Regions from separate parts of the Homo sapiens genome. Here region 2 is linked to region 1. A link means that fine-mapping ties the variant in region 1 to the expression of a gene that starts in the linked region. Tissue or cell type: ileum. Region 1 holds a variant in brackets; the other region holds the start of a gene. All regions are shown on one strand. Distances are from middle to middle.

Region 1 (5,000 bases):
AGATCCTTTCATGAAATGGGAATTATAATTGTACCTGAGTAACTTACTTTGATATAAAGACCTAGAAATTGTATGGCAAAAATTGAGTGTACAAAAGTAGAACAGAGTGTATAAGGGCAGAATAAAACCACAAAACCAGTTTGGGATCCTCAAACCAGGAAAGTGGGAGGAAAGAAAGAAGGAAGGAAGGGAGAAAAGGACGGAAGGAGGGAAACAGACCTTCACAACTCCCTATAGGATATCAAAGTTTGGTGCAAAGACAGTACTTGGAACCAGCTGTCCCCCTGGGTACAAATCTCAGCTACACCTCTCCAACCTGTGTAACTATGGGTGAGCTCATTTATGTATCAGATTTAGTTATGCTCATTTGTTAAAGAAAAGATACTGATACCCAGTTCTTTTCTTTTCTTTTTTTTTTGAGATGGAGTCTTGCTCTGTCACCCACGCTGGAGTGCTGTGGCACGATCTCGGCTCACTACATCCTCTGCCTCCCAGGTTCCAGCGATTCTCCTGCCTCAGCCTCCTGGGTGGCTGGGATTACACGGGTATGCCGCCATGCCCGGCTAATTTTTGTATTTTTAGTAGAGACAGGGTTTCACCATGTTGGCCAGGCTTGTCTCAAACTCCTGACCTCAGGTGATCCCACCACCTCGGCCTCCCAAAGTGTTGGGATTACAGGCGTAAGCCACTGCACCCGGCCCCAGTTCTTAAGATGATTGCAAGGATACAGGCTCTGGCATGGGATAGGTTCTTGAAACATGTTAATTTTTTAGTTTTCTATTCCTTGTTCTTCCCTCCACAAGGGTTAAATCTCTAAGAGATTACCTGTATCATGGTTATGATAAGAAGGCAGAGGAGAATGGTGGTATCCTGAAAATGCAATTACTCCACTTACTGCAGACACCGAAAAATACTGGGCAATGTATACCCCTTCTTCCAAGCCAGCCCCACCTCTGGCATTTAGCAGGCACCCAGAGAGGAAGAGTGGATGTGCACAACAAAATTCTCTTGTGCAAAAAGAGTGAAAGAATAAAAAAGCAACTCACATCAGAGAAATGAAATCTGGGAGAATTGTGGGGATTAAAAACCAGCCCTTCACACTCTAACCCGTGACGAGAGCATGCAGAGAGATAAACACATTGGTGTTTCATGTATTTATTAATTGCAGCTACCATCATCTCAGTGGCCATAGATTGTATTAGAATAGAAGATGAATAAGGCTAAGTTCATGATAATTCTTACTGGAGAGGAGCAGATTAATCCCATTTCAATCAGGCATCGATCACAGAGATACACAGAATATTAACTAAAGGCCTACATGAAATATGCCAGAGGACAGCTGATAGTCCTGTGTTCCACTGCACAGACTCAGGAGGCAAGAGCTGGGGGAGGAGGAAGATGGCAAAGGGCAAGGGCGATGCATCTAAGCAGACATTTGGGAGATTAAAAATAAAAGAGGGGAGGAAATATGAGGAAAAGGGGCAAGGAGTAGCCGTGGGAAGATGAAAACACATGGAAATTCAGGGCAAACAAAGAGGTCAGGGAAGTTAGAAAATAGAGAAGGAGAACAAAGTGAAAGGGGGACCAAGTGAAAAGGGAGGAAGAATTAGACAAAGGGAAAGAGAGGGAAACACAGTCAAGAAAAGAAATGCTGGCCGGGCACGGTGGCTCACACCTGTAATCCCAGCACTTTGGGAGGCCAAGCTGGGTGGATCTCCTGAGGTTGGGAGTTCAAGACCAGCCTGACCAACACAGAAAGACCCTGTCTCTACTAAAAATACAAAAATTAACCAGGCATGGTGGCACATGCCTGTAATCCCAGCTACTTGGGAGGCTGAGGCAGGAGAATCGCTTGAACCCAGGAGGCAGAGGTTGTCGTGAGCCGAGATTGTGCCACTGCACTCCAGCCTGGGCAACAAGAGCAAAACTCCATCTCGAGAAAAAAAAAAAAAAAAAAAGAAAAAGAAAAGAAAAGAAAAGGAGCAGCTGGGCACAGGAGCAAAGCAGCTAACCAGAGCCAAGGACAGAACGACACGTAAGAGAATGAGAGGCAGCAAGGCAGGGAGCTTGGTGACACTCATGTCATCCTCTAATTAAATGGGGGCAACTGCTTTTTATGCACCTGTGCCCTTGATTCAGAAAGCAGCAGCAGCCTGAGAAAGGACTTATTGTGAGAGTAATGACGCTAGGGAGGCTGGTGGCCATCACTGCTTA[T/C]ATTTACTGAACATATCCTGCAGATTAGGCGCCCTGATGTTAGAATAGCTGTCTATATGCAAAGTCAAATCATTAGCATGTGTGCACAGGGCCTGGGGTCATGCTCTGCTACCATTCCCAGGGCCATCTGCAGGGCTGGAGCATCTGCAAACATGGCCGCTGCCAGGCAGTGATGGAAATTCGTTCTTCGTGGTCAGCCCAGGCCAGGCATGGGCTGGGGCTGGAGTGTCCCTCACCTCTCACTAAACAGCAGCAAAGGAATTGGTGGTGGATATGAGAGGAATACAGAGTGCAGGAGGAGTGAAGGGCTGTACATCAACCATGATGGAAACGGCTGAGGGAAAAAGAGGCATTTAGGATAAAGCTAGATAATCAATTATTTATAGTCTCTGTGATCCTGATGAAGGGTTTAAGGTGCGCCTTTCATAAGATCTAGCTTCTGGCTTTCTCTCTCACGCATTTTCTCTCTTTATGCCCTTCCCATCTTTGTCTTCCCTGGCAAATTCCCACTCCAGTTTCACAACTGATTTTCTCTTGTGTTCCCACTTTTTGTCAAAGTCCTACTGGGCTAGAGACCCCTCTTTCTTGCTCCCAGTAACACATCAATCTCACTTTTTTTTTTTTTTTTGAGACGGAGTCTCGCTCTGTCCCCAGGCTGGAGTGCAGTGGCGCGATCTCAGCTCACTGCAAGCTCTGCCTCCCGGGTTCAAGTGATTCTCCTGCCTCAGCCTCCTGAGTAGCTGAGACTACAGGTGCACGTCACCACACCAGGCTAATTTTTTTTTTTGTATTTTTAGTAGAGACGGGGTTTCACCATGTTGGTCAGGTTCGTCTCAAACTCCTGACCTTGTGATCCACCTGCCTCGGCCTCCTAAAGTGCTGGGATTACAGGCGTGAGCCACCGCACCCAGCCCAATCTCACTTTTCTGATAGCAGTCAGTATATCCCACTTTCCTGATTCTGTGTCTTTCCTCCCGGATCTCGTCCTTTAGTCTGTCTTCCTTCTCCTGCAGTGGCTGCAGGTCCACCAGCCTCTTACAGGGAAATCGCATTTCAGTCGTCTTTGTATCTCAGTTCCTAGCTCCGTGCCTGGCACATGGTGATGCTGAACCAATACTTTCTGAACTGATAACAGATCCAATCTTACGTTCTCCTGTCCTTGTCCTCCCATGGTTTGCTCTGTTCATCATGGCTTCCTCCCAGCATAGCTCTCTTTCCTCCAAACCTGCTCATGACAGCTGGGAATATGATTCTTGTTCCTTCCCTGTCCCTCTGGCTCTTGTCTTTTTTTTTTTTTTTTTTTTTGAGATGGAGTCTCGCCCTGTCTCCCAGGCTGGAGTGCAATGGCGCGATCTTGGCTCACTGCAACCTCTACCTCCCGAGTTCAAACGATTCTCCTGCCTCAGCCTCCCGAGTAGCTGGGACTACAGGCGCCCGCCACCACACCCGGCTAATTTTTGTCTTTTTAGTAGAGGCGGGATTTCACCATGTTGGCCAGGCTGATCATGAACTCCTGAACTTGTGATTCGCCTGCCTCAGCCTCCCAAAGGGCTGGGATTACAGGGGAGAGCCACCGTGCCCGGCCTCTTGTCTTAATCTTAAACTCAACCCTGAATTTCTCAAATCCGTTTAAGTCTGTATTTCATTTTATTAGGCCCATTACCCTCCCTTCCAAGTCCAATCAGCAAACACATAGCTGTAAAATGTTGAGAGACCTGTTAAACATATTAAGTTTTGAGAATTGAAACAATCCAAAGAAATAGTATCATGTCTTCTCACCGTAGTACTTCACCTAAAATCCATATTTATTTTTAAATAATTGAGGGAAAGACATAACTTTGAGCAAAAGTCATGTTTCTTTTGCACAGGGACTCATTCGTTTTGGACTTTGGGGAGCTGCCTTGGAGATTGGGGAGTGGAGGAGGAGAAGTTCAAAGCAGCCAGCTTTGCGGGAATGGTTATAGCCCAGCCAAGGTTTGCTCAGTGTCAGTCTTTCTAGGCAGAGTTTATTTGAAACCCAGTTCAAAGGCTATGGGCAATCTGCAAACCAATTGAACTAGTTCATTGATTCCTTGGGCCTTCTTCCTAAATGGGTCTATGATCAGGATTTCCTAAACTTCTACTATAACCACTATTATGTGATGTGATGGTCAATCCAAATGACAACTATTTATTAAAACTTCTTTTTTTTTTTTTTTTTTGAGACAGAGTCTCGTTCTGTCACCCATGCTGGAGTGCAATGGTGTGATCGTGGCTCACTGAAACCTCTGCCTTCCGAGTTCAAGAAATTCTCTGCCTCGGCCTCCCGAGTAGCTGGGATTACAGGCGTGTGCCACCACACCTGGCTAATTTTTGTATTTTTAGTAGAGACAGGATTTCGCCATGTTGACCAGACTGGTCTCGAACTCCTGACCTCATGATCCACCTGCCTTGGCCTCCCCAAATGCTGGGATTACAGGCATGAGCCACCGCATGCCTGGCCCTTGTTTGTTTTTTTGAGACAAGGTCTGGCTCCTGTTGCCTAGGCTAGAGTGCAGTGGCACAATTTCGACTCACTGCAACCTCTGCCTCCTATGCTCAAGCCATCCTCCCACCTCAGCCTCCCGAGTAGCTGGGACTACAGGTGCACACCACACCTGGCTATTTTGTTGTTGTTGTATTTTTTGTAGAGAAGGCGTTTTGCCATGTTGGCCCGGCTGGTTTTAAACTCCTGGGCTCAAGCAATCCACCCACCTTTGCCTCCCAAAGTGCTAGTGGGATTACAGGCATGAGCCACTGTGACTGGC
Region 2 (5,000 bases), 890 kb after region 1:
ATTGAATCATGACTTTACAAGTCATCATTCTTTGTTGCAAATTACAAAAACCCAATTCACACGGGCTTATGTAAAGAAGAGACTCTGTTGGTTGTGAGATTCTTCCATTTTCAGGCATGGCTGGATCCAGGCTTTTAAACTTCACCTGCAGAAAGCCTTTCTCCCTGTGAGGCTTTCTCCTGACAGCTCCAGGCTCACATTCTACCAGCTCTACACATTCATCACAAAGAAAGCTTCTCTTTAATAGTGTGAGTAGGATTGCCAGATTTAGCAAATATTTGGAACACATCATTGATGATCCAAAATTCAGTTCAACTGAGGTTGTCCTTTACTGACAACCTAAGTCCCATATAGGTCCTAGGATTGAATCTGGGCAATTTGGATCCTATACCCATCCTAGACCCAATCACAGTGGTCAACAGAATGGGATATGTCAGCTGGCAGGCCAAAGTCACCTGCCTATCCCCAAAAGGAGGGGAGCACGGTCAACCCTGTAGTCCACATCCACCCATAGTGCATGTGGTAATCCACAGTACTAAAGACACTGATCCTCGAAGAAAGGGGACTGAACCCTGCAAAGGCAAAACCAACAGACGCTCACTAAGGTGACTTTGAAAGTCCCAGCCGGGTGCAGTGGCTCATGCCTGTAATCCCAGCACTGTGGGAGGCCGAGGCAGGCAGATCATGAGGTCAGGAATTCGAGACCAGCCTGGCCAATATGGTGAAACTCCATCTCTACTAAAAAAAATACAAAAATTAGCCCAGCATGGTGGTGGGCGCCTGTAGTCCCAGCTACTCTGGAGGCTGAGGCAGGAGAATCACTTGAACCCAGGAGGCAGAGGTTGCAGTGAGCTGAGATCGTGCCACTGCACTCCAGCCTGGGCAACAGAGCAAGACTTTGTCTCAAAAAAATAGAAATAAAAAAAGAAAGTCCCAGACAACAGTGAAAACTATAAAACTTCATGGTGGTTGTATGGCATTCAAGAGCTTAAAAGCACTTCCATGCCATTGTTTCCTTGTGGGTATTATAATCATTCCCTGTATTAATTTGCTAGGACTGTCCCAACAAAGTACCACAGTCTAGGTGGCTTAAACAACGGAAATTTATTTTCTCACAGTTCTGGAGGCTGGAAGTCCAAATTCAGGATGTTGGTAGGGTTGGTTTCTCATGAGGCCTCTCCCCTTGGCTTGCAGACGGCCGTCTTCTCCCTGTGTGCCCATGTGGTCTTCCCTCTGTAACTGTCCCCTCTTCGTATCAGGACACTAGTCATATTGGATTAGGGTCCACCCTATAACCTCATTTTAACTTAATCATCTCTGTCAAGTCCCTGTCTGCAAATGCAGTCCCATTTTGAGGCACTGGGGGTTAGGGCTTCAGCATATGAATTGGGGGTGCAGGGGGAATGCAAGTCAGCCCCTAGCACTCTCGCTCTCATTTTTTTCTTTTATGTAAGGAAAAGCACAGTGAGAATAGTCTTCGCTTGTTTCCAATCCCAGGGCTGATTTAGCTGTGGAACTCCACCCAGTGCTGGTCCCCGCTGTCCCCACCCCACCTCTGCAAACACGGGTGCCCACCCCCGCCAGCCGCCAGGCTCCCTGCCTAGTCCCGGCACGGGACCTTCACGGTCCCAGCACCAGGCACAGAGCAGACAACGTTCTTGAAATAAGTGTTTCGTGAAAAGAATGAAACTGAGAGGGAAAGAAAAAAAAAACTAGACAGTTTTAGGAGATTTAGCTCAAAGGAAAAGAGGACAGGCACAGAAGCTCCTGATTTGAAGCGATAAAGACTCTTTAGAACAGCAGAAATGAGGCCTATGGATGTGTAAATGAGCCCGGGGAGGAACTAAGCAGAAGGGCGAATTACAAAACAGAAAAAGACCAGACAGACTAGGGGAGAACAGTGAATATTTCAGTGTCTTCGGTTCATAAGAAATTCATGAGCAATTTTGGAAATTTTGTTGGTTTTGGTGGTGGGAGAGAATTGTAAATATGTATAATATGTAAATATCTTTTATAATAAAAGCCCATGAAGATAAATGAGCCTGTCTGCCGAAAAGCTGTGAGCCGTATAAGATGTTAATATAACTGTCGTCACTCTAGAAATTACCATAATGCTTACAGGGATTTGAAAGTTCCTGAGCTTTGGAAGGAAATGCATAAATACTAAACAGAACACACACACACACACACACACACACACACACACACACACACACATCTCTTTTTCTTTCTCTTTCTTATTTTTGTAAAAACAATTTTTATCCTTTTTTTTTTGAGGAGTCTCGCTTTGTTGCCCAGGCTGGAGTGCAGTGGCACAATCTGGGCTCACTGCAACCTCCGCCGCCCGGGTTCAAGCAATTCTCCTGCCTCAGCCTCCTGAGTAGCTGGGATTACAGGCTCCCGCCACCACGCCCGACTAATTTTTTCGTATTTTTAGTAGAGATACGGGGTTTCACCATGTTGGCCAGGCTGCTTTCGAACTCCTGACCTCAGGTGATCCGCCCACCTCGGCCTCCCACAGTGCTGGGATTACAGGCGTGAGCCACTGCGCCCAGCCCTTTCTTTCCTTCTTTCTTTTTCTTTCTTTCTCTTTCTTCCTCTCTCCCCTCCCGCCTGCCTTCCTTCCTTTTTTCCTTCTTTTTTTTCTTTCTTCTTTTTTTTTTTTTTTGTGAGGAAGGTAGCTTTAGTGAAAACAGGGTTTGGAGTTGAACCTATACGGGTTCAAATTCGACTTCCGTCCACCACCGAGACCTGCGCTCCCTGAGGGACTCGCTTTCCCATCCGCGAAACCAGGACGGCGCCGCCTACACCCCGCGGCGTTCGGGGCGGGCTGAATGGGTCGCTGAGTGGGGGCTACACCCACGCCCTTCGCTCCCCGCCCCCGGGCGGAGCGACGGCCACGGCAGTGTCCCCAAGGCACCGAAACCGAGGCGGGGGTCTCGGTCCCTCCGCGCAAGGAGGAAGGCGGACCGTACGTGGCAGGACTCACCGCCCCGCACGTGGCAGGACTCACCGCCCCGCGCCGTGTTCTCCGAGCCATGGCGCCAGCGCTGTGGCGGGCCTGCAACGGACTCATGGCCGCCTTCTTCGCGCTGGCGGCCTTGGTGCAGGTCAGGCGGCCGCGGTGGGAGGGGGACCCGCCCGGCTCCCAGCTCCGCCCCCTGGCCTAGCGGGCCGTGTAACTGACTAGCGGGCAGAGTCGCAGGGGCGCACAGTTAGTGGGGAGGACGGGACTTGGGCTTTCTGCTTGGGGAGCCCCCACTTTCTCCCCCGTCTAAGAGACGCGGATGTGTTCATGGAAGCGAGTCCCATACCAGGGCTCACACCCTGGAAGGGGCTGGTTCCGCGCGTGGAACTTCCCAGGGGACCTCAGAAGAAGCGGCCCTGGCTCCTGCGTTAACGTCCGGCCCGCGGACGACACTGAACATATCTCAGGGCCTAGGAGACGAAGCCGACCAAAACCCTTTATAGCATCATTAAACTTTTTAGTCGGCTTGGGGACCCCCTTCATAATCATTTCCCTCATTTCTTGAGACTGGTGGGGGTGGAGGGCCCTTAAAATACCCGTTCTGGGTTGGCGAGTCCTCTCCAGAGCTCCCGTGAAGGCTTTTCAAAAATGTGTGGCTGCCTGTTAAAAACATCTGTTGTGTCAGCCAGAAACCCCTTCACCCGTCCTCATCTGGACTATATCCTGTTCAGATTTTGTACCCTCGATGCCTATTGCAGTGTCTGGCACTTAACAAATTAATAAAAAATGTGCTTAAATGAATTTAAAAGGAATGGAACAGCACAGGATGTCTGCTAACACCTTGGTATTCTGGCGTTCCAGGTAAATGACCCAGATGCAGAGGTGTGGGTGGTGAGTATGAGCCGCTTCCAGGCTTTCCTCCGTTTGGAAGAATTGGGGAACGGCACAAAACACACGGTTTTATGTCTTTACCCCTCCTCCCTGCTTAATTTTCTGAGAAACTTAAAAATCAAACCCTTGGGAAGCGCTTTTTCCTAAAATATTAATAGGCAGGATCAGAGTTCTAATGTAATGTGTGTGTGAATTTCGAACTTTCTGGAAACAGGTCTTTCTGCAGTATTCCCTTTGGTTAGATGGCCCAACTGAGGACTTTCTTGAGGACCTAGAGTAGGCCTCTCAAGATCAGTTGAACAATTCCTTATGAGTTTCTAGCCAGACACTCAATGCAAACCTTTGACCGGAAAATAACAGGCTTAAGTTCTGAGGTTCTGCTAATTCAGTGACTTATATTTCTAGAAAGTATTAACTCCTGGCTGGGCAAGGTGGCTCACGCCTGCAATCTCAGCACTCTGGGAGGCCAAGGCGGGTGGATCACTTGAGGTCAGGAGTTCTAGATCAGCCTGAGCAACATGGTGAAACCCCGTCTCCACCAAAAAATACAAAAATTAGCCAGGCGTGGTGGCATGCGCCTGTAGTCCCCAGCTACTAGGGAAGCTGAAGCAGGAGACTCGCTGGAACCCAGGAGGCAGAAGTTGCAGTGTGCTGAGATCGTGCCACTGCACTCCAGTCTGGGCGACAGAGTGAGACTCCATCTCAAAAAAAAAAAAGCAAAGAAAAAAAAGAAAAAAAAAAAGCAAAGAAAAGTATTAAATCCTGTAAAACCTACAGTCTTCATATAAGCAAGGCTCTGATTTGAACCATTTGGAGGAGGGGGCCATTGTTCCATACATCTTCTAAATATCTTTTTTTTTTTTTCTTTTTGAGACGGAGTTTTGCTCTTGTTGCCCAGGCTGGAGTGCAATGGCGCAATCTAGGCTCACCGCAACCTCTACCTCCCAGGTTTGAGTGATTCTTCTGCCTCAGTGTCCCAAGTAACTGGGATTACAGGCATGCGCCACCACACCCAGCTAATTTTGTATTTTTAGTAGAGACAGGGTTTCTCCATGTTGGTCAAGCTGGTCTTGAACTCTCGACCTCAGGTGATCCACCTGCCTCAGCCTCCCAAAGTGCTGGGATTACAGACATGAGTCAC

What was found. PIP is the estimated chance that this variant, and not a neighbour inherited with it, causes the effect.
Region 2: it holds the start of TMEM220, and the variant in region 1 is fine-mapped to the expression of TMEM220 in ileum (GTEx, PIP 0.95).

What each region holds. Positions count from the first base shown.
Region 1 is chr17:11,619,927-11,624,926 of GRCh38, reverse strand. All of the region lies in intron 6 of DNAH9 (dynein axonemal heavy chain 9), which reads right to left. Among named protein-coding and RNA genes, the nearest start is that of DNAH9, 24 kb to the right of the region's middle. The variant T/C (reference allele first, on the strand shown) is at 2,215.
Region 2 is chr17:10,727,890-10,732,889 of GRCh38, reverse strand. It overlaps TMEM220 (transmembrane protein 220), which reads left to right and starts at 2,867. Exons shown (of 6, transcript NM_001004313.3): 1 at 2,867-3,110; 2 at 3,830-3,859. The coding sequence starts at 3,039. TMEM220-AS1 (TMEM220 antisense RNA 1) reads right to left here and starts at 3,113. Exons shown (of 4, transcript NR_073458.1): 1 at 2,990-3,113. RefSeq lists enhancers at 2,242-2,828, 2,829-3,415 and silencers at 2,809-3,048, 3,059-3,228.